Homo sapiens: one gene and its partner. The protein of the gene in region 1 purifies or fractionates together with the protein of each later gene. This does not show direct contact. Each region holds a gene or a part of one and is shown on either strand. Other genes may lie near its edges.

Region 1 (10,742 bases):
CAAACTCCTTGGGGTCAAACAATTCTCCCACCTTGGCCTCCCAAAGTGCTAGGATTACAAGCATCAGCCACTGTCCCTGGCCTTGTTGTAGTTTTTAAAGACTAATAGATTTGTCTTTTCCTACACTTGCTCTTGCTCCTTTTGGTCTGATGACATAACACAGTCATCTTCCCATGTCTGCTAAGAGACCCGCTTCATCCTTCTCAATGCAGTCATTCCATATTACCCACAGATCCTCATTGTTTTCATCAGACCCCTACTGATGGGCACAACTGCATATTTCCACCATTACATCTTACATTGGACTTGCTGGTCCCTAATTTTGTGCACACCACTGTACCCAGGCAGAGTGCTGGGGAAGGGTAAATCTGTAGACATCAAAATCCTTGGTCAAAGCCCATGTAAGTTTTGAATTATAATGAGCGCTGCAATCTTTGCTCCAAATTTGTCCAGATTTATACTCTCACCAAAAGTGCATGCCCTTGCTGGCACCAGATGTTATCAATCCTTTTAATGTATGCAGATGAAAGGCAAAACATATCTCATGGGTTTAATCTGCATTTCCTAAGGAACTAATGAAGGTGGCATCTTTCCATTTGTCTATGAGGCAGCTTGCATTTCTTCTGAGTTGTTTCCTCATACTGTTAGCAACCACCACACCCCCACTTTTATTTCCTTATCCTTTTTCATTCATCTGTGGGTTCTTGCCTAAATTAAGGATAGTAACCTTTATGTTTAATATACTACAAAATCTTTCTCATTCTGTCATTTTTGATTCTGTTTATGATGTCTTAAGCCATATAAAATTTTAAAATTTTCATGTAATTAAATACGTCATTCTTTTACTTTATAGCTTGAGTTGTATGTTTAAGGCCTTCTGCACTCCTGGACATAGACAGCAGCAGAGGTTCTGGAATGAGCCTTCCACCCCCATGTTCGTAGCCTGGCTGGTCCCACTTTCCAGCTGCATCCTTGTCCTATCTGTGCTTCTGCTGCATAGGCTCAATGTCTACTTCACAGGGTTGTGATGACAACAAAATGCATTCACATGTGTAAGGTGCCTAGGACTCTGCCTGCTTCATTTTATTTTAGGGTCTTCGCTAGACCCATCACGTGCCTCCTTCTCTTTCCTAAGGCCTGGTACCCACATAAGGTGATAAAGGTGACCTCAGATCCAGACATGGAATCTGTCACTTGGACATCCTTATATAATAAAATTAATATATATTATATACTTATATAATTAATTATATTACATAAGCTTATATAAGCACTGTGTGTCAGGAATATCATAATTGCTTTATATAACAATAACCACAAATAATGATATTAAGAGCTAACATGCAAGGAATGCTTCCTGTGTGCCAACCACTGTTTCTAGCACTTTATACAAATTAACCAGCACAAGAGTCCTCAATCCTTAATGTAAAAATGCTCTCAATCCTTATATTATATATTCTTGATTCAGAAGCATTTCCTTTTAATTCTCTTGACAATTTTAAGAAGTATGTATCATTACCTCCATTGTACAGATGAGAAAACTGTGGCTTAGAGCAGTTAGGTCATTTGCACGAGGTCACACGCACCACCGTGGCAAAATGGGGCTTCTAAGCCCAAGGTGCTAAACGGCCCACGTGGGCTCAACATGGGGTCAGTCAGCACAGTGTGGGTGACTGGGCTATGGAATCAACTTGGAGGCTTCGATGGTTGTCTTATCTAGTCCCAGAATTCCCTGCCAAGGTCACTGGCAGGGCTGGTGAAACCCCCAGCAAACAACCTGGAACTATGTTAAGGAGCTGGTTTACGAGTCAGGGGGCATGGAAGTGGGGAGGGGGTGCATCTTCTCAGAGACAAAAATGAGGAGCAAAGGTGGTGGTAAATTGCAAATTCTAATTCTAGGTATTCCTCTTTAAAAGTGGCCACCTCCCATGGGGCCATGTTGCTCAACTATTTCCATAGTTCCAAAGAAAAGAAGAATTTCCTGAAAATCTAAGTGAGTTCAGGCACAGCCTGGGAGTCTCCAGCTATAAACAGAGGAGAGACAGAGTACAGCCTCCTCTCTACTCCAGTAACAAGGTCCCACAGAACACCAAGTGCCTGGGATGACGCTTTCCAGGCAGGCAACTGAGGGGGTGGTGGGAGTTCCTAGAAAGAGGTTTATTCTTAAAAGGACTGGAAGTCCTGGGTCAAGGCAGTTCAGAAATGAGTGAAGAGCTCTGGGTGTGAAGGATGACCAGATTCCCCAGGAGATGACCTGCCCAGGAGATGACCTGCCTGCCACATTAGTTTGGCAGGCTGCCTTCTGGGAGAGGCCCAGGTTTAGTGCTTGGAGTTAAAGGACCTAGGCGTGGCGGGGGGGGATTCAGGAGAGTCCCAGAATTCCTTCTATGCTTTCTTATTTTGTTCCTGATGCCCTTAATTTTTTTCCCAGTGGTATCACCGTTCTTTCTGTCCTCTAACATCATGTCTACACATCTCCTGAGAAATGTATAGAGCTAAAAGCTAATAGAAAAATTGGTCTCCCGTCCACTATACCCACCAAGTGCTTTTACTCACATTCAGGTTCTCAGCACTTTTTAGGGAGCCAGGGAAGATGATTTATTCTTCTCGGTCTTCCAGGAGCCTAGAACAAGGCTAGTGTACAGAGCAGGTCCTCAGGAGCCATTTTATGGATGGATGGACGGTTGGATGGATGGACAGATGGATAGATGGATGGGTGGGTGGGTGGATGGGTGGGTGGGAGAATGGATGAGTGGATGGATGGATGGATGGACAAGTGGGTAGATAGATGGGCGGATAGGTGGAAGGGTGAATGGACAGATGAGTGGGTGGGCGGGTGGATGAATGAGTGGATGGATGGATGGATGGATAGATAGATGGGTAGATAGGTGGAAGGGTGAATGAATAGATGGGTGGGTGATGGATGGATAGATGGATGGGTGGGTGTGTAGGTAGATGGATAGATAGGTGGGTGTGTGGATGGGTGGGTGAATGGATGGATGGGTGGGCAGATGGATGGATGGATGGATGGATAGATGGATGGATGGAAGATTGATGGATGAGTGGATGGGTAGGTGAGTGGATGGATGAATGGATGGATGGATGAATGGGTGGACAGATGGATGTCTGGATGAGTGGATGGGTGAATGAATGGGCGGGTGGATAGATGGGTGGATGGGTGAATGGGTAGATGGGTGAATAGGTGGGTGGAAGGATGGGTGGGTAATGGATGGATAGATGGATGAGTGAGTGGGTAGATGGATGGATAGGTAGGCAGGTGGTAGATGAATAGATGGATGGGTGGGTCAATGGTGGATGGATGAGTGGATGAGTGGATGAATGTATAGATGAATGGGTAGACAGATGGATGAATGAATGAATGAGTGAATGAGTGGATGGATAGATGGGTAGGTGGGTGGATGGGTGGGTGAGTAGATGAATGAATGAATAAATAGGTGGACTAAACACGCCCTCACACACTTCCACGGACCTTCTTCCCAATCCCAGCATAAACCATGCCCTTCAAGCAGCCCATGTTCTGCTCCCCAAACACACTGTACACTCTTCCCTCAGTGCCTTTGCGGGGATGATTCTAACCTTTCTAAAAGTACTTCTGCCCTCTTCTCTGCCTAATTCCACTCATGACCAGGGCTCATAATAAGCTCATGCAAAAGCCCTCTCTTCACTCCAACCAAAGAGTATCCCCCTTTTCCAGGCTCATGCCACATTCTTTAGCCCTTGGCTATGAAATCTTTGGATACCTACTGCTGATCGTGCACTTTAAATGGCTTCAGTGAGCACAGGCAGGGTATCCTGGCCTCCAAACTCACACATCAAGGTCTAGTGTGGAAGCTTCCCCAGCACTGAGCCCCCAGCCTGCACTTGCTTCTCTGTTGCACAGAACCAGAGAACAGGCAGTAATGCAGAGTGTGTACCCCTTCCCTGAGATGGTGCCTGGGAAAGGAGCCCAAAGGCCAAGGCATCCCGCCAAGCCTAACTCCCCCTGGGCTTGCAGCTGGAGGAGGGCCACTGCATGTCAAGAGCTCACAGAAACAGGCAACAAGCATTGCAAGAACAAAGGTGACAGCAGCATGCCATCCAAAAAGTACACCAGCACTGCCCGCCCATGGGTGGTTATGGAGATGTGTTAGTTAAGTCTTGGCTAAAAAGTACAATCCTAAGTTAGGACAGAGGCATCGTTTTGTCGGTCCCATGTGGCCACTGAATTATCTGAGAGAGGGCAAATTTCCAACTTACCATCAAGCAGATATTTTTGTTACTATAGACTGAACCCCAAAGAGCAATGGCCACTAAGAAGGGGGTTCTCAGTTTGGTGAGTTTAAGCATTTATGTATATGTGTAGGCGCACATACATGTACACAGCAGGAAGTCTGGTCTTTGTATACCTGTAACCACCTTAAGGGAAAGGGAAAAGCAAATGAAGATACCACCTGTTACACTTCTCTGCATCCAAGGCACCGCACTAGGTGCTTCCCATCTGGCATTTTGGTGAAGGGCCTATTGTTGTGGATTGAATGGTGACCCTGAAAAGGTATGCGCATGTCCTAACCCCCAGAATCTGTGAATATGACCTATTTGGAAAAAAAGGACTTTGCAGATGTCATTATGTGAAGGATCTCGAGATGAGATGATCCTGGATTATCTGGACAGGCCCTAAATCCAAAGACCTCTCTTTTTAAGAGACAGAAGGGAAGACACGGCAGAAAGAAGGCCATGTGAAGACAGATGTGGAGGCTGGAGTGATGCAGCCACAAATCAAGGACCACCCTGAGCCACTAGAATCTAAAGGAGGCAAGGCATGGCTCTCTGGAGGGACCAAAACCCTGCTGACATTTTGATTTTGAACTTCTGGCCCCAGAAGAGTGAGAATCAGTTTTCTGATGTTTTGAGCCACTAAGTCTGTAGTACTTTGTTACACCAGCCCCAGGAAACTAATACAAGACCCAGACATTTTCTGCAGAATTCCCAGGTGCAGGGGCAGTGGTTAAGACATACTCATTAATCATTTGTTCATGGGAATATTTAAACTGGAGTCAGCCCATGCCAAAGCCAATTCCATTCACAGACTCTGGGATAACAGCATCTGTCTTATAATAAGGAAAGGAGTGAATTTTCTTAAAAAGGGAAATAACGCAGAAGAGGAGGACAGGAGTATTTGTCCCAAAGATCGCTAACAGGAGTCCTTAAATTGACACATTTCAGAAAGTACATTTGTTTTTTTCCCAGAAGATATACAAAGGAGGGAGTAGACGGGACCTACCCCAGGGAGTGAACTGAGATTCTTCCCCAGGGCGATGTCTTTGGTGTGAGAAACATCACCACCCACTGGGACACAGGTCCCAAAGCCTGAGAGCCCCAGGGTGAGGTACAGGAGGGAAGAACTCACCACCCACTCCCCTGCTCATGGGGCCCAGGACCACACACACTCACCAGTATTTTAATGTCTCAGAGAAAGGTGAATATGTCCACTTTTCAAAGGTACACAGTATATACACAGTTTTAAATTCACAAGAGGCAAAATAGGAGATAAAATCCATTGACTTACACGTAGAATCCTTGAGAATTATCAATAATCTCATAAATTGTTTGAGATTTGATGGAGCTAAGCTTCTCCATGGCCGCGGCACCTCCATTGTTTTTAATCCACTCCAGAACCAAGCCCATGACGTAGATGCTAAAATGAAGATTTTTAAAAAATCCGTTTAGCTCATCTTTGCAAAAGTAGAACTATATTCAAGCAAACTGCTGTTGAAGGTGCATTAAAACAGACTTAAACACATTATTTGAAATAGACAAGATAGTCAAATGCAGTGGCTCACGCCCGTAATCCCAACACTTTGGAAGGCCGAGGCCGAAGGATCGCTTGAAGCCAGGAGTTGGAAAGCAGCCTAGGCAACATAGCAAGACCCGTCTCCATAAAAATTGAAAAATTAGTTGGGTGTGATAGCATGTGCCTATAGTCCCAGCTACTTGGGAGGCAGAGCAGGGAGGAATGCTTGAGCCCAGGGGTTCGAGGCTGCAGTGAGCTATGATCACACCAATGCACTCTAGCCTGGGTGACAGAGCGAGATCCTGTCTCCAAAAAAAATAAAGAAAGAAAATACACAAGACAAAAGCAGGGCCCATGTGAACAAGAGCATGTCATCAAGCAAGGACTAGGGTCAACCCAATTCTAGATCCCTGAGGGCCATTCAGAAAAAGGTTTAATCAGATTTTTCACTAAACATCATATCAGTCCCTCCTTGTCCAGCTTAAGCCCTAATGTAAACTCTTCTTGAGAGCCAGAACACACTTCCTTATCTCCACCAGAAGGCATCAGCAGACCCCAATCCCACCCCTACCCAGAGCGAGCTCTTCACTTCCTGAACTCCCAGAGCGCCTTGCCCATATTACCTGCATAGTTTTTTTCCACTTGCTCTTTTAAGTTTCTGTGTGCCTGTTGTTTGGCCTCTGTGGTCTTGGAAGGCTAGAAGCCCACGCTGTTCATCTTTTCTACCCACATCCTTAGCACAGTGCCTTCCAGCCAGCAGAGAGCACTGTGGCCGAGGGGTTAAAAGGACGGGCTCCCCCTCCCAGTCCTGACTCCCATTGTAGGGCAGCCACTCACTAACAGACTACCCAGAATTAGTCACCTCGGTTTTCCCATCTGGAACCGGGAGATCCACCTACCTGTGGTGGACACCTGGCATTTTATCCACCCTGCTCTTCCCAACTCCACCCTCCAGCCAGTATGCAGGTCCAGCAAGGCCCCTTGGCTCCCTGGTCTCAGAGTTCGGCATAGGACCTAACTGGGCCAATCAGGGCCTTCCCTGAGATTTTCTGAATTGGGTGTGGGGAGAAAGAGTGGGGAGAGCAGAAAAAGCGGCAGAATATTAGTGCAACTGTGAGACAGGAGATGAGAGCCCTAGGGGATCATGTTTCTAGGAAACATCTGAAGAAGGCCCATCTGAAAATGAAGCCAACATTCCCGCTGAGAGAAGCCAGGATCAGAAGTGGAGAGCAGATGGAGGAGGATTTGTGTCCCTGGTTCCAGGAAGTCCAGCTGCACCTGGGCCCTTCCCGCAGCTCAGGACCATCCCTTTCTGAACCAAGTATTTCAACTTCTTCCTGCCAGACCAACGCTTAGCACAGGGCCTGGCACGTGGCAGGTGGGCCACACAAATGGCAGTCAGTAGTCCCTTCAAACTTAAGCTGAAAATATGAAACACTGAGGAGCGGTGCATGGTTTTCCCCAGTCTGAAAACCCCTCTCCTTAAGAAGGTGCTAAAGGCTCCACGTGTACTCAGTAAAAGCTCAGGGCACAGGAGGAGAGGTCGCCCAGGGAAGACACCATCTCCCTTGAGCTGGGAGTCTGGAGGTCAGCTGCCAACTATGCCCTCTCCAGAGGTGTGAATCAAAGATCCCCTATGGGAATTGTGCAAAAATTTACTGGGAGTCAATGCTCAGCTAAGATCTAGGGTGGGGATACCCAGCTGCTTCCTCCTTTATTAACAGGAGGGGACATTATGGGGTCTGGAAAATGCTCTAACAGCCAGCAGCTTGTCACAGGGAAGCCCCCTATACCAACTGGCTCATTCACTGTCTCAAGTGGGACCCAAGGCCTGGGTGCAGTGGCTCATGCCAGCTCATGTTGGCAAAAGCCAACACCGGGCTGCCCAGAGGGGCCTTAGGCAGGGAGCAGCCAGCAGCCACAAACATCCAACAACCTCTCCTGAAGCTTCCCCAGCCTACCTCCCCAGACAGCACTGGGAAGAAAGAGCAAGAGTGGCTGCTGGCAGAAAGGGAAGGCAGGGAGGAAGAGGAAACAGCCCCTGAGAATATCCACAGCCTCAGCGGTAGCTCTCTGGCTAACGTCCAAGAAGTCAGAGGGACAAAAGAGACAGAAGAGAGAAAGTAAGAGAAGGGAATGAGTACTTCCTGAAGTCTACTGTGGCCTCAGCCTATCTTTATTGATCACAATAATCCTCGGGTTAGAGCCACCGTCATCCCATTTTCCAGATGAGGAAACTGAGGCTCAGAGAGGTTAACTTTGCCTCAAGTCATCTGGCAAGCAGCTTAAAGCCAGGACTCCAACTCTAGCCTGTCTGACTCCAAGAATGCAAGCTCTTCCCACAAGTATGCAGGCCCTCTGCTTTGCCAGGGGCTGCAGGGCTCCAGCCACTAGCTCCCCTGCGAGTGGGACTGCAGAGCTATCACCACACACCAGTGACAGTGGCCAAGTCCAGCACACAGCACACATGCACGTGGGTGTGCATTCCAGACACGAGGCTGCCCAGCCCTCTGTTCATCAGATGCTCTGCAATTCCCACTTCACTTCCAACTGCTCCTCTCCCACACCTGCAGCCTGTTCACCCCCCACCTCCACACAGAACCACAGAAACACACCCTGCCATGTGATTGAATCCAAGCAGAGCCCAGGTCACCAACAATACTTCCAGGTGACCAAGCTTCCCTTTTGCCTGAAGCTCTGTGTTAGCCCAGGGTTTCAAAGCTGACATGGGCCCTTGCTGCACTGTGGATTTGGTTTGTCTAAATCCAAAGTGCAGCAAGGCCCATGTCAGGTCCACCGTCCTAGCCAGACCTCAGTACCGACGCCTGAACCCCTAGCTGACTGCTGTGCTCACACTCGCCGCCCATGATCTCTGGCTTTCTTAATGGGATCTGAGGAGGCAAGGCCAGCAGAAAGCTCACCCACTTTTAGGGGCTGCCTGGAGCCAGCACCCATAACTTGGCTCTATGAAGCCTAAACAAGAGGCAGACAACTCAGAAGCAAGCAAGCTGTCCTGAAGACTGAAGACATCCCTGGGATAGGAGGTCCTGCCTCCCCTCCCACCCAGCCCTCTGCAGAGCACTGATGTCTAGCCCCTGTGACTCTACTTAACACAAGATAGGAGGTCCTGCCTCCCCTCCCACCCAGCCCTCTGCAGAGCACTGATGTCTAGCCCCTGTGGCTCTACTTAACACAGGATAAGAGGTCCTGCCTCCCCTCCCACCCAGCCCTCTGCAGAGCACTGATGTCTAGCCCCTGTGACTCTACTTAACACAGGATAGGAGGTCCTGCCTCCCCTCCCACCCAGCCCTCTGCAGAGCACTGATGTCTAGCCCCTGTGGCTCTACTTAACACAGGACCCTCGTGGCTTCCAGTTCTTTATTAACTCATGTTTCAACTCCCATACCGTCTAAAATCTTGAAAACACAAGGGCTCTAAAACGCTTACACAGCTTATAGAGTGGTCTCAATTCTTCCCACTACCAGTGTGACATTTTTAAGACTTATGCCTTCATTTCTAAAATGCCACCTGCAAACACACAGGATAGGGTTCCTAACTCTGCCTATTAAATGATTAAATAAATCGAGGTATGTCCATTCTACAGGACACCATATATATTTTAAAACAAAAAAGGGCCAGGTGTGGTGGCTCATGCCTGTAATCCCAACACTTTGGACGGCCAGTGTGGGAGGACAGCTTGAGGCCAGGAGTTTGAGACCAGCCTGGACAACATATTGAGACCCTGTCGCCATAAATTTTTTTTTTAATGTAGCCAGGCATGGTGGCACTTGCCTGTAGTCCTAGCTACTTAGGAGGCTGAGGTGGGAGGATCACTTGAGCCTACGAGTTTGCGGTTTCTGAGAGCTATCATCACACTGCTGCACTCCAGCCTGCACAACAGAGCAAGACCCTGTCTCTAACAAAAATAAAATTTAAAAGTAAAAAATAAAAATAGGCATTTGAGCTGACATAGCAGAATGCCCATGGTATATTGTGGAGTGGAAAAATAGAATTCACAGAACAATTTGTATGGTAAAGTTCAAGTTCCATTTGCATGATTAAATATATGACTCTGTATATTTGCATATGCCCAGTTAAGAGTCTGTTAGGATACAAAGCAAGCAGTGAACAGTGGCTACCCTGGTGACTCTGCCCACCTGCAAGTCTTTGCTAAGAGTATGTTACTGTTTGTTTCTTTGTTTCTTTGTTTGTTTTTTGAGGCAGAGTTTTGCTGTCACCCCGGCTGGAGTGCAGTGGCACGATCTCAGCTCACTGCAACTTCCGCCTCCCAGGTTCAAGTGATCTCCCGCCTCAGCTTCCAGAGTAGCTGGGATTACAGGTGCACGCCACTACGCCCGGGTAATTTTTGTATTTTTAGTAGAGACAGGGTTTCACCATGTTGGCCAGGCTGGTCTCGAACTCCTGACCTCAGGTGATCTGCCCGCCTTGGCCTCCTGAAGTGCTGGGATTACAGGCGTGAGCCACCACACCCAGCCTAAGAGTATATCACTGTTATAAATTTTTTAAAGCAATACAAAATAGTCCCTGTGCACCAGGGCTTAGAAAAGGACACCAGAAAGTCCCCTGGAAAACTCTCCCTGGCTGTTCTAAGACTCCAGCTCTGCAGATGAGGTTCTGAAGTTGATGTTATGGCACAGTTTTCTCAGGAATCGGTGAATGTAGCCACTGAGTTGAGCACTTTTCCCAGAGGAAAGCTCCCAAAACTGGCTCCACTACACACCCCTCTGTGAATTCCAGGATTCCAGGCATCCCCATCCCACTGGGAGAAGGTAGTCTGGGACCAGTGAAGCCTTCCAAACAGGCCCACAAACTTAATTTGCATGCTCCCATTCTTTTATTTATTTATTATTATTATTATTTTTGAGATGGAGTTTTGCTCTTATTGCCCAGGCTGGAGTGCAATGGCACAATCTTGGCTCACTGCAACTTC
Region 2 (10,742 bases), on another chromosome or scaffold:
GATCCAGGAGGGCCGTCCTCCTGCAGGTGAACCAGGGATGAGGGGCTTCCAGGTGGGCCACCCTGCTCTGACCAAGGTCAGCGTGAGCCTCTACAGGGTGCTGCTGACTGCTGCCAGCTCCTGAGGCAGGGCCCCTGGCTTCGGCTATGCTATAAAGGCTCCTGGTAGAGCCTGAGTGCCGTGAGGCTCATGGTGGCCAATCTGTGGGCTTCTGGCTGTGTCAATTCTACCAAGTGAAAAAAGTCTACAGCAGTTTTTCTGGTATTTTTCTATCCTGCCTGTGCAGAGGGAATCAGCACGTGTGGTTTTAAACCACAGTGCTAGTTCTCACTTCTGCCCTGTACGACCAAGCCCGGCTGCCTGGCTCCTGGTGGGCTAGCAGGGCAGCTGTCGAAGAACACATCTGGGCAGTTGCTGGGATCAGCCCTGGACAAGAGGGGAGTTTAAGATTTCGTTTGTTACATCTCGTTCTTGGCATTTCGAGGAACAGTCTCTCTGAATAAAGGAGGCCCCACTTGGGCCATATCCTGCACTGGACAAGAGGGCATCTGAGCTGCCCTCAGCACCCAGGGGCCCCAGGCCCCACTTCTGGAGGCCTCTGCAAAGACACAGGAAGGGCCCAGCTGTGGCCTGGTCAGCACCCCAGAGGGGCCCTCCCAAGGGCAGATGGGCAGGCCCAGCCACTTACAGGTACTGGCGCCGCAGGGCCTCAACATCCGAGTTGACGCTGCTGATCTGGGACCGCTGGCTCTTCTCCAGCTCCCGCTCCATTTCCTCCCGGTGGGCGTTCTTCATGGCTTCGATGGCTGCAGGCAAGGACACGGCCTCAGCACCGAGGGACCACGCCCTTCCTGCTGACAGGGGTGGGGGTGGGGAGCTCCACACAATGGGATGGCGCCTGCCACTGCTGATGCTTGCTTAGTCAATCAGCAGTTGGATTTTGCATGACAGGCTGGCCCCTCATGAACCAATTCTCTGAGGTGGGTGCAGGCTGGGAGAATTCTTCATGAACTCCCCCTGGAAGGAATGCACGTTTGGCTTTTTTTTTGGTGTTAGAAGAAAACCAAACTGATTAAATAAATGTCATTGTTAAATTCCAACATGAGTTTATAAAACAAGCAAGCTTTTGTGCTGGTGTATTTTCTTCCTTGGAACTAAATTAACAAACCACTGAGGTGGCGATTACATAAAGGGAAGGCAGCACAAGGCGGAGGGGACGTGCTTGTTTAGGGCCACCTGCCGGTGAAGCTACATATCTTCACGCTGACGGCAGGGGCATTCTGGCCAGAGGTGGTCCCACGTTGACAGGTGTCTGTCAGGGGGAAAGTCACTGGCTGGACTGACACTGGTCAGTCTACTTGTTGGAACTGGAAAGTCACAGGTTGGGACAGCTCCTTGTGTGCAGCCGGCCACGACGGGGCTGTCAGGGGTCGAAGTGTGCGCTCTCAGTTTACAAGCTCTCAAAAGGGACCTAAAATTGGCCTTTGCCTCAGAGTGAATAGTCAAAGAACCCTTCAACAATGAAGTTTACATCTCAGCCAAAAGGCAATTTAAAGGCTGCCATTCCTCTGAGTTGTGTGTCTAGCTCAAAAAAAGCTGGCCACCCACCCTGCCCTCAGGGTTACCCCACCCCCCAACCTGAGATGGTGGCCGCTGTCTCCTCGGCTAGGAGGCGGTCTTTCTCTTCTCGAAGTTTCTCTAGCTCCCGCTGGTGCTGCCTCTGGAGATCTTCAATCTTCTTCTGGTGCGTTTCTTCCATTGCTGCAAACCCTCGCTCGCACGTGGCCTGCAAAATGCAAAAGGGACTTCATCGACTTCTTTCTTTACCTCTAAGTTGGGGGCCCTTTTAAATAAAGGAGCCAGGAATCCCACCCTGTCCAGGCCCAGCTGTGACTGGGCATTCACTGAGCTTGCTCCACCATGGGCGCCCTGAACAGGATCCCTGGGGCTGTCTGGGGATTCTCAGCAATGCCATCAGAGCATTCAGAAAAGGGTGTTACCAGTCAACTCTACCTCTTATTTCTGTGACTGTACTGTGCCCCATTTCTTCCTGGGAGAAGTTGGTATGGTAGGTGGGGACAGGCTGCTATGAAATGGAAACCAGCCAACCCTGGACCTTCCTGCGTTGCTGCCAGGTGGGACCCACAGGAAGGAAGAGAGAGCACGTGGGCAGAGGCTGGCTGTGTCTGGTCTGGAGGGACACGGTGAAAGGCCCGTAAAACAGGGATGAGGGACTTGTCTGCTGGAGGGAACCAAGGCCATTCCACATATAGGGAGTGGCCTGGCGGGCACCGGGCTGGGAGCCTCTCAACCCACAGTGGGTTGGGGGTACATAGAGTCCACTTCTGGGAGCTGGGGGTTGGGACTCTGCCACTAGCCAGCTGACAACCTCCAGCTGGTCACTTAATGCTCAGGTGTTGACTGAGGGAGTAAGATCAGGCTACAGGCTCCCCTTCCTTCTAGCCTGTGTCTTCTTTCTTACTCTTTTCTTAAAGAAGGGCACCAATGACTTAGCACCTCTGCTAACTCTAACAAGTACATGACAGGAGACCTGCTTTCCAAACTCTCCTGTGCCTCCCTAGAGCGACATAGGCATGCCCCAGGATGGGAGCAAGCCACACCAGGAAGCCCAGGCCTGGTTATCAGAGCTGTGCTCACTAACAAAGCAGGTGAGCGTGCTGCACAGCTGCCGGGAAGGGTGGGTGTGCAGCTATTTTGAGCACGGAGGCACACACTTTCTGTCTAAATCCTTCAAGTGGTCTGCTTCAGAGAAGGGACTGGGCCTCTCGCTGAGTTTTAAAAACTGGAAGAACGTGGCCACATTCCATTCCAAATTCAAGTGTGGGGGTTTCCCCACTCTGGGCTGATAGCCTGCACCACTTGGTTAATCTTCTTGCATGTGGATTCAAGAAAGGATACCAAGAAATCCTATCAGCATGCCTGGGCATTTTTCTCTGGGCCCACTTTTGGTGATGGCCAACTCTGAGAGCCTCAGGCAGTATTTCCAAACTCGTGGTCAGTCTGGACTTGACTGCAACCTATGTGCTGCTCTGGGTGAATGTCTCAGCTATTGCCACTATTAACTAGGCGTCCCATCCCCTCTCCCAGCGGCTCCACCTGGAAGCATCTGTCTCTTTCTGCCACCCTCACACCTCAGGACGGCTGCAGGAGCTCGGAGCTCTGGAGCTCCTGGTCCTCAGGCCCCAAGGTTGAGCTCTTCTTTCTTCCTCCCACTCGCTTCTGTTTGTATGTGGCTTCTCAGTTAACACATTTAACTAATAGGTCTTTTTTAATTAAAAAAAAAAAAAATATATATATATATGGAATACTTCATGAATTTGTGTGTCATCCTTGTAAAGGGGCCATACTAATCTTCTCTGTATCATTCCAATTTTAGTATATATGCTGCTAAAACGAGCACAACTAGTATTAATAGATCTTTTAAGTCTTTTTTTTTTTTCTTTGAGTCTACTTGCTGGGAAAAGTCTTATTTTGATCTGAGTGCTTTGGAATATTATGCAGGTAAGAGTCAAAAATCTAACAGAAGCACTGGGACATCTTTAAAGACCTAGTTGCTTCTTTGGAGAGAAACTATATGCTAAAAAATAATTGATCTTGCAAACAAATGTTAATTTAAGCCAATCATTCCTGACACCAAAAGAAGTTCCCCGATGACTGCAATCGTGGTGTGGTGGGAGCCTGTGGATGTCAGAGGACGGCTGTTAGGCCAAGACCCTGTCCCCAACGACCCAAGTGGAAATCTGCATAAAGTGATGAAATCTCAAGGTGCTGTCTATTTACAAGTTCTGTAAGTCTGCAGGGGTGGGTGAGAACACCACACCTGGGCTAGAAGCTCCCAGGCACAGGAGGGGACACTATGCAACGGCAGCTAAGGCAGCAGGGAGTGGACAGTGTCCAAGCCCCTGGGAGGGGCCTCATCCCGACCTGCATCATCTGTTTCTCCCTCCTAGTGACACTGGCCCAGCACAATCTCTGGTCAGTTCTCAACATAAGGCAGTCCTCTTTTTTCTGATTTCTTGCTCACTGTTGGTATAATGGCACCTGCATGGGGCCTCCCCTGCACCTGGTTGGCTAACCTAAAGCAGCCTCGGTGTGGAGGGGCCTCTTATGGATGCAGACAGGAAGCAGGGCATTGCTGTGCCCAGGCCCTGCCCCCATGGACCCTGCTGATTGTCTGGGAAGCTGCAGGGAAGGGCACTAGCAAGCGTATTTGGGGTCAAAGCAAAGGTTTGTGCAATTAACTTTTCAAGGTGCACCTGGATCCACCCATCTCAGTGCTGCTCTTGGTGAACTGACCACAGTGCCATCATATACACACACTTTGAAAACATAGCTGTTGAAACCTTCTCACAACTCATAATGGTTTTTAAAAGGTTTTGACTGATTTGGGGAAAGAATGGTGAAAAAGAGCTTCTCAGTTCTCCTGAGGTGCTCGCTGACAACCACACCTGTGTGTCTGGGTGGGGCCGAGTCCGTCACACAGAGGTGACATGTGAGCTGCTGTTTCCATTCAGAGCTACAGGAGTAACGGGCTGGGAAAAACAGGTGTCCTGCTAGACAGTGGCTGTGAGGATGTGTAGGCAGGAGCAGTGGCAGCCACCTGGGAGTCAGGAGCTTGCAGCACAATGGTGCTGGCTGTGTGCGCGCCTGGCTCTGCCACATGAGCGTGGAAGGCACCACCTGAACATGGCTTTTGAGGGGCCTAGTCATCCTAGTCATTTACTGGGGCAGCTTCCTGAGTGGAAGGAACATAAGGGCACAGGTATCATGGTAAACTTTTGAGTCTAAGGGATGATGCTTGACAGCCACACATGGTGGGTGTGGCCTGCAGCTACAAAGGGTGGGGCCAGACAGCTGGGCCTCCACTCAGCCCACCACCACCTCCAGGGCCTGGCATTTCGCCTTTGTGCTCCAGGACCTCAGGGGCGGGGATGCAGGACAGTTCTGGGGAAAATCTACTTGTAAAGGTCCTGGGGAAGGGGACAGGAGTGGCTGGAGGCTGTGCTCCGTGGGAAAGTTCTTCTCACCAGAGCACACATCAAATGCCAGTTCCAGAGAGGGACCCTCCGCCCGACTGTGCTCTCCTAGGGCAATCAGGAGGAGACTGCCCTCCAACTGGGCCCTGGCTCTCCGGGGTGTTGCTGTGAGTACAAGGCTGTCCTCAGGCAGCTGCCTCAGATTTGGGCTGGGACTGGGCCAGACGGGGTTCCCGGGGCAGGGGCAGGAAGGAGGCAAGGCTGGCAAGGGGATTGGGGGCTGCTCTCAGGAACACGGAGAGGCCGCATTAGGCAGGCAGGGAAGTGCTGGGAAGACTACGTGCTCCTCTCCCACCAGGGACCCTGGCGGCCCTCCTGCTAGTTCTCCTCCTGGTGGAGGACACTGGGGGATGCCGAACAAGAGGCTAAGCCTGCGGCCCAGGCCCTGCTGAGACCACACCATGGCTAGCAAGTAGAGGGACAGCAGCATATCCCCTCAATTCTGCCTGCACGGTAGCTGAGCCAGACGTCCCCACACCCACCCCATTATCAAGGAAGATCTGCTCTGCAAATTGAATGGGGCGTTAAGACCTTAAGGCTCTCCAAGTCCCTCTGGTACTTCTCACGCAGTGTGGCCGCGTCGCCCTCCAGGTCCTTGTGTCCCAGCTCCTCCCGCATGACATCCATCTGGGCCTCCAGCTCCTGGATGCGCTCCCTCAGCCCCGTCATGGAGTCAGCCTCTCCCTGGGTGGCCTGCCAGTTGGGGGCAGGGGCTGGCAGGGCCTTGGGGTGTGGCCCCTGGTGGAGGCAGAGGGTGTCCTGAAGGCACCTCAGGCTCTGCGAGTAGTGCTCCTGCAGGGTCCTCAGCTCCTCCTCGTGGATCGTCTGCAGCTCCCGGACCTTGAGCTGGAACCTGTCCTCCAGGGTCTGTATCTGCTCACCATGATGCCTCTCCATGTCCTGCCTGTCTCTGACCGAGGCATCCAGCTGGCTCAGGACCCGGCTGCGCTCAGCCTGCAGTGTGCTCTCGGTCCTGGTCAGCTGCTCCACCACACACCGAATCTCCTCCTCATACCTGCCCCGCAGGGTGAACATGCTCATGCTGTGCTTGCTCTCTGCATCCTCCAGACACTGCTGCTGATGGTCTAGCTGGGCGGCCTTGGCCTTGAGCTCTGCATTCTCCCTTTCAACAATGGCGATCACATCCAGGTACTCGCTCTTCTGCTTGCGGAGAAGCTCCTCATACTCCTCCCTCAGGGCCCGGGCTGCCTGTGCCTGCTCTGAGCAGGAGGGCTCCCGGGTTTGCCAGGACTCCTTGCAGAGCTGGAGCTCCTTCTCATATTCTAGCCGGATTCTGCAGGACGCATAGCAAACCTGGGCCTGAATAATGGCATCCTGAACCAACAATGAAGAATACTGACCGAGGCCTCCCAAACAAGTGTTATACGAGAGACTCTGGGACACCTGGAGAAGCTTCTGGCAATCTCTCAGCGATTCCACAGGTGGCAGAGATGGTAAGGCAGCCGCTATCTCCTCTAAGAGGCTGGCCTTCTCCTTCAGCTGCTGGGCAAGCTCCTCCTGAATAGCAACAAAGGCCCCAGGGCTCTGGTCAGACACATCGAAGGGCTCCTGAGAGCTGTCTGAGTCTCGGCCCAGGACTTCTCCTAAGGGGCTCAGGTCCCAGGACAGCTGAACACCATCTTCATGGCCCGCTGGAAGCCTGAGGGCTTCCAAGACCTGCTGCATCACTCTTTCAAAGTCTGGGGTTTGGTAGGCTCCCAGGATTTCCCTCAGCAGGCATTTGTGCTGCCGCAGGGCCGTCTGGGTGCCCCGCAGGGTCTCCTGGATGCTCTGTAGCCTGCGGTGGAACGACTCCCTCACTGACTGTGTGGCAAAGCTGAGCTCTGCCCTGACCCATGTGGCATTGGCCAGGATGGGGGCCAGGCCCTGTGGGATGCTTTGCTGCCCGTCTCCTGAGGCACCGACTGCCTCTCCTCCCAGTGTCCCCAAGTGCTTCCTCAGAGACTCAACCTGGCTCCAGAACTCACCATCCACTAGGACCTTCCTGGCCCAGGTGTCTACGGGGGCCCCAGCAGATTCCATCGGTGGCTGTCCTGACCAAGAAATCTCATGGAGCATTCGGGAGACATCTGATGTTGTGTTCTTCAGGGAATCTGCTATCTGGCTGATCAGCGAGGCCTCCAGAGCAATCTGGTCAGAAAGAAGCCTCACCTGCTCCTGCTCTGTCAACTCAGACTGGGAGCACTGCTGCAGGGAGGCAGGCTTCCCATTCTCCTCGGTGCCACCTGTCTCCAGCTGTGCACGGGCCCCGCCATGGGCTGGGGCCGGCCAGTGCTGCAGGGCTTGGATGGCGCTGACGAGTGCACTCTCCACACTGGCCAGGGAGGCTGCGCGTGCGTCCTGCTCATCCTCCTGGCTGGCCCTAGGCAGAGATCTCAGTTGTTCTCGGCAATTTTCCAGGCACATCAGGGCCTGACTATTCTTGACCTGGAAGTCCCCAAGCTCTCCAACATGCCCTTCAACCCTCCTGGCCCTCTCCTGCCTCTCCTGCTCCAGCTGGGAGGCCAGTGCGCCAACCTGGAGCAGGCTGGCGCGGAGCTGCTCACGCAGCTGGGCCTCGGTGCCCGCCCACTGGTGGTGCAGTGCGAGCAGTGCCTCACGGCTCTGACCCTGCTGGCTCTCCAGCCTCACGGTCACGTCTTTGAGCTTTTCCTCTGTGACGTAGAGCTTGGTCTCCAGGGAGTGGATGATGGAGAGGTACGTGTCAGAGTCGCCAGTTGCAGGCAGTACACTGGGTGCAGGCTCTGAGGACATGCTTTCTTCCGAGGGTGACCGGTCCTGGCTGGTGTCGGAAGATGTGCTGCTGGTCCAGGTCTTCTCAGACCCTTCGGGGTGAATGTATCTTTGGCACTGGATTGTGGAGAACCGGATTCTTTGCCTTTTAACACCAGGTGCCCCTTGGTCGAGTTTGGCTGTGCCCTGCTGATGGCCCTCCCTGTCAAGCACTTCCACTGACTTTGGGGGCACCATGCTGTCTTCCCTACTGGGGCTGCCATCACCGTACTCTTCCCCCGGAGGAGCCCCCAGGTCCTCGTCCTCATCCTCGAGCCTTGTGTGTGGGAGGCCTAGAGGTGCCCTAGTGGCTTGGACTGGTTGGCCTGGGAGCAAAGTGCCATCCCTTTCTGTCTCTTCAGGGGTACTCCGTGGCTCTTCCATGTCCTTTGGAGATTCACTTGCAAATTTCCTTAAAATCTCTTCTTTTGCCTGGAGCTTAATTTCTGTTTCCTCTAAGCTGCTCCCCAAGGCAACCATTTTAACCAAAGCCTCATTGAGGTCCTGCTCCTTCTTCTCCAGAACCTTCTCATGTGCTTCCTTAATGCGCTCCAGCTCTTCCTCCTTCTCTCTCAGCAGAGTGTGCATGCTCTGCAGCTGGCTGGAGACCCTCTGGTAGGAGTGCTCCAGGCTCTGGTTGTCAGCCTCTCTTCTCCTCAGCTTTTCCCGGAGCTCAGCCACATCCTCGTCGGACGTGGCCACGCGCTCTGTCAGCTCCTGGAACCGCTGTCTGAGGAGGTCCCGCTCGTCACAGAGGCTCTGCACGTGCTCTGCGAGCCTGCGCACGCTGGCCTCTCGTGCCTCCAGCTGCTCCTCCAGCTGGTGCACCTGCTCACTGCCCTCGAAAGTGGCGCTCAGCTTCTCCTTCTGCAGGGTCTCCACCTGCTGTGCCTGACCCTGCAGCTGGTCCTCATAGGCGCTGGCCTTGTCTTCCACTTCCTTTAGGTTCTGCAGCAATGCCTGCTTCTCCTTCTCACAGCTCTCCAGCAGCAGCTCATAGTTTCTCTGCAGCTTCTCCTCCATCAGCCGCTGCGCCTGCTCACTGGCGCCCAGTTGCTGGCTGAGGTCGGCAATGCGCTCCTGCAGCCTCTGGACCTCCTTCTGCCGGTCCCGCTGCAGCGCCTGCTGTGTCTCCAGGCCCCGTAGCTCCTGCGTCTTCTCCAGCAGCAGGGCCTCAGCACTCTTGAGCTTCTGCTCGCTAGCCCTCAGCTGGCTGCTCAGCGCCGCCTCGCTGTGTTGCCGCTCCTCCAGCTGCTCGCGGACCCGGCCCTGCTCCCGCTTCAGGTCGCCCTTGAGCTTGGCCAGCGCCTGCTCCTTGATGGCTAGCTCAGCGGCCGCATTGCTGAGCCGTGCCTGAAGGCTCCGGATCTCAGCCTCGTGGTGCCGGATCGTGTCCTTGGCCTCCCCATAGCTACGCTTCAGGGTCTGAATCTGGTGTGTAATCAGCTCCTGGCGCTGGCACTGGGCTTCAAGCTCACTTTGAAGGTCTTGGTTGACTCTATGGAGCCTCTGCCAGGCACCCGATGGGGAGGCGGCCACTTCAGTCTTAAAAAAACCGATTAAATACTGGTTAGTAACACTCGGGCCTCCCAGTTCTGAGTGTCACACCTCTGGCCAGGAACAACCACAGAAAGCTCCTTGATGGCTTTGGCTTTTATCCTTTGTACAACTTTATTTTTTTTTCCCATTAAAAAAATCCAACAAATTTTCTTTTTTTTTTTTTTTAGTAAGTAGCTGCTTCCAGGTAAACAGAAAACATGGACAATAACATCAGAAAACAGCTTTAACCAAACAGCTTCTAGGAGAAATAAACCAAACAAAACTGAATAATGGAACACACTAAGAAGCAAAACAAAGACTAAAGGACAAGAGAGCGCCAGGAAGAGGGACAGGCGGGAGGAGCACAGCACCTGCAGCTGTTTGTTTCACAAAACAAAAAGTACGCAGTCTTGACAACAAATCCTAAACAAGCGCAGGACACAAGGTGTAGGTAAATGATGCCACTTCCTTCTAAGACAGGAGGAGAAGGAAGGAAGGTAACACTCGGGAGATGTCAGCAAGGTGACATCCAAACATTTTCCTGTGGAAAGTGTAGTCAGTCCTCTAGAGTAACAGGAAGAACTAATCTCTACCTGTAAGAAGTCAAAACGAGGGGGGAACGGGAACCATGGAGTAAGATACAATAATCAACAAAACAAACAAACCTTTGTGGAGTTCAAAATAAGAAAAAGTGAAGCATGCAAAAACAAAACACAACGTAAATGAAACAAAACTCCCCACACTGAAAGGCATGCAGAGACAGAACTCATTAATATAGGGAAAAACAACACAAACAAGAGTGAGCCGAGCCCAGCCTAAGAATCTGGCCTGCCTATGGCTCCCTCTCGGTCTGCTGGCCGGGGAAGCCACAGATGTGACACTCAGTTATGTTAAGTTCAAGTTACACTTCACACTCAATGTCCAAATCATGCAAGCTCCTCCCAGCAGTTAGTATAGCACCCACCCCAGTAGCTGGCTCCTGACCCTTAACCCCACAGACCCCCTGCTCATTCTGAGTCGTGATTAAAAGCATTTCCAAAGCATAAAGGGTGGTGAGAAGTCACAGGTTATTAGACTTAGGGAAAAGGTATTAAAGACCAGCTTTGCCCAGTGCTGACCAACAGGGGCTTCAGTGTAGGCTCATGCAATTATGCAAGTTAGACAGAGGTAGGTTCCTAGGTTAGCAATGTGCAAAGTCCGCTGCTTAGTACAAGTTGAGTATCCCTTATCCAAAATACTTGGGACAAGAACTGTTTCGGATTTTAAAATATTTGCATTCTACTTACTGGGTGAGCATCCCCAATCCAAAAATCCAAAATCTGAAATGCTCCAGTGAGCATTTCCTTTCAGCAT

The links.
Region 2: the proteins of PSAT1 (region 1) and MPRIP purify together in Homo sapiens (affinity purification with mass spectrometry; 2 studies listed by BioGRID and IntAct, with this or other methods). This does not show direct contact.

What each region holds. Positions count from the first base shown.
Region 1 is NC_000009.12:78,312,629-78,323,370, reverse strand, and holds part of PSAT1 (phosphoserine aminotransferase), read right to left. Parts: intron 5,696-10,742; coding exon 5,567-5,695; intron 1-5,566. UniProt on the Homo sapiens protein: Involved in L-serine biosynthesis via the phosphorylated pathway, a three-step pathway converting the glycolytic intermediate 3-phospho-D-glycerate into L-serine.
Region 2 is NC_000017.11:17,162,762-17,173,503, reverse strand, and holds part of MPRIP (myosin phosphatase Rho-interacting protein), read right to left. Parts: intron 9,396-10,742; coding exon 5,589-9,395; intron 1,787-5,588; coding exon 1,639-1,786; intron 807-1,638; coding exon 689-806; intron 1-688. UniProt on the Homo sapiens protein: Targets myosin phosphatase to the actin cytoskeleton. Required for the regulation of the actin cytoskeleton by RhoA and ROCK1.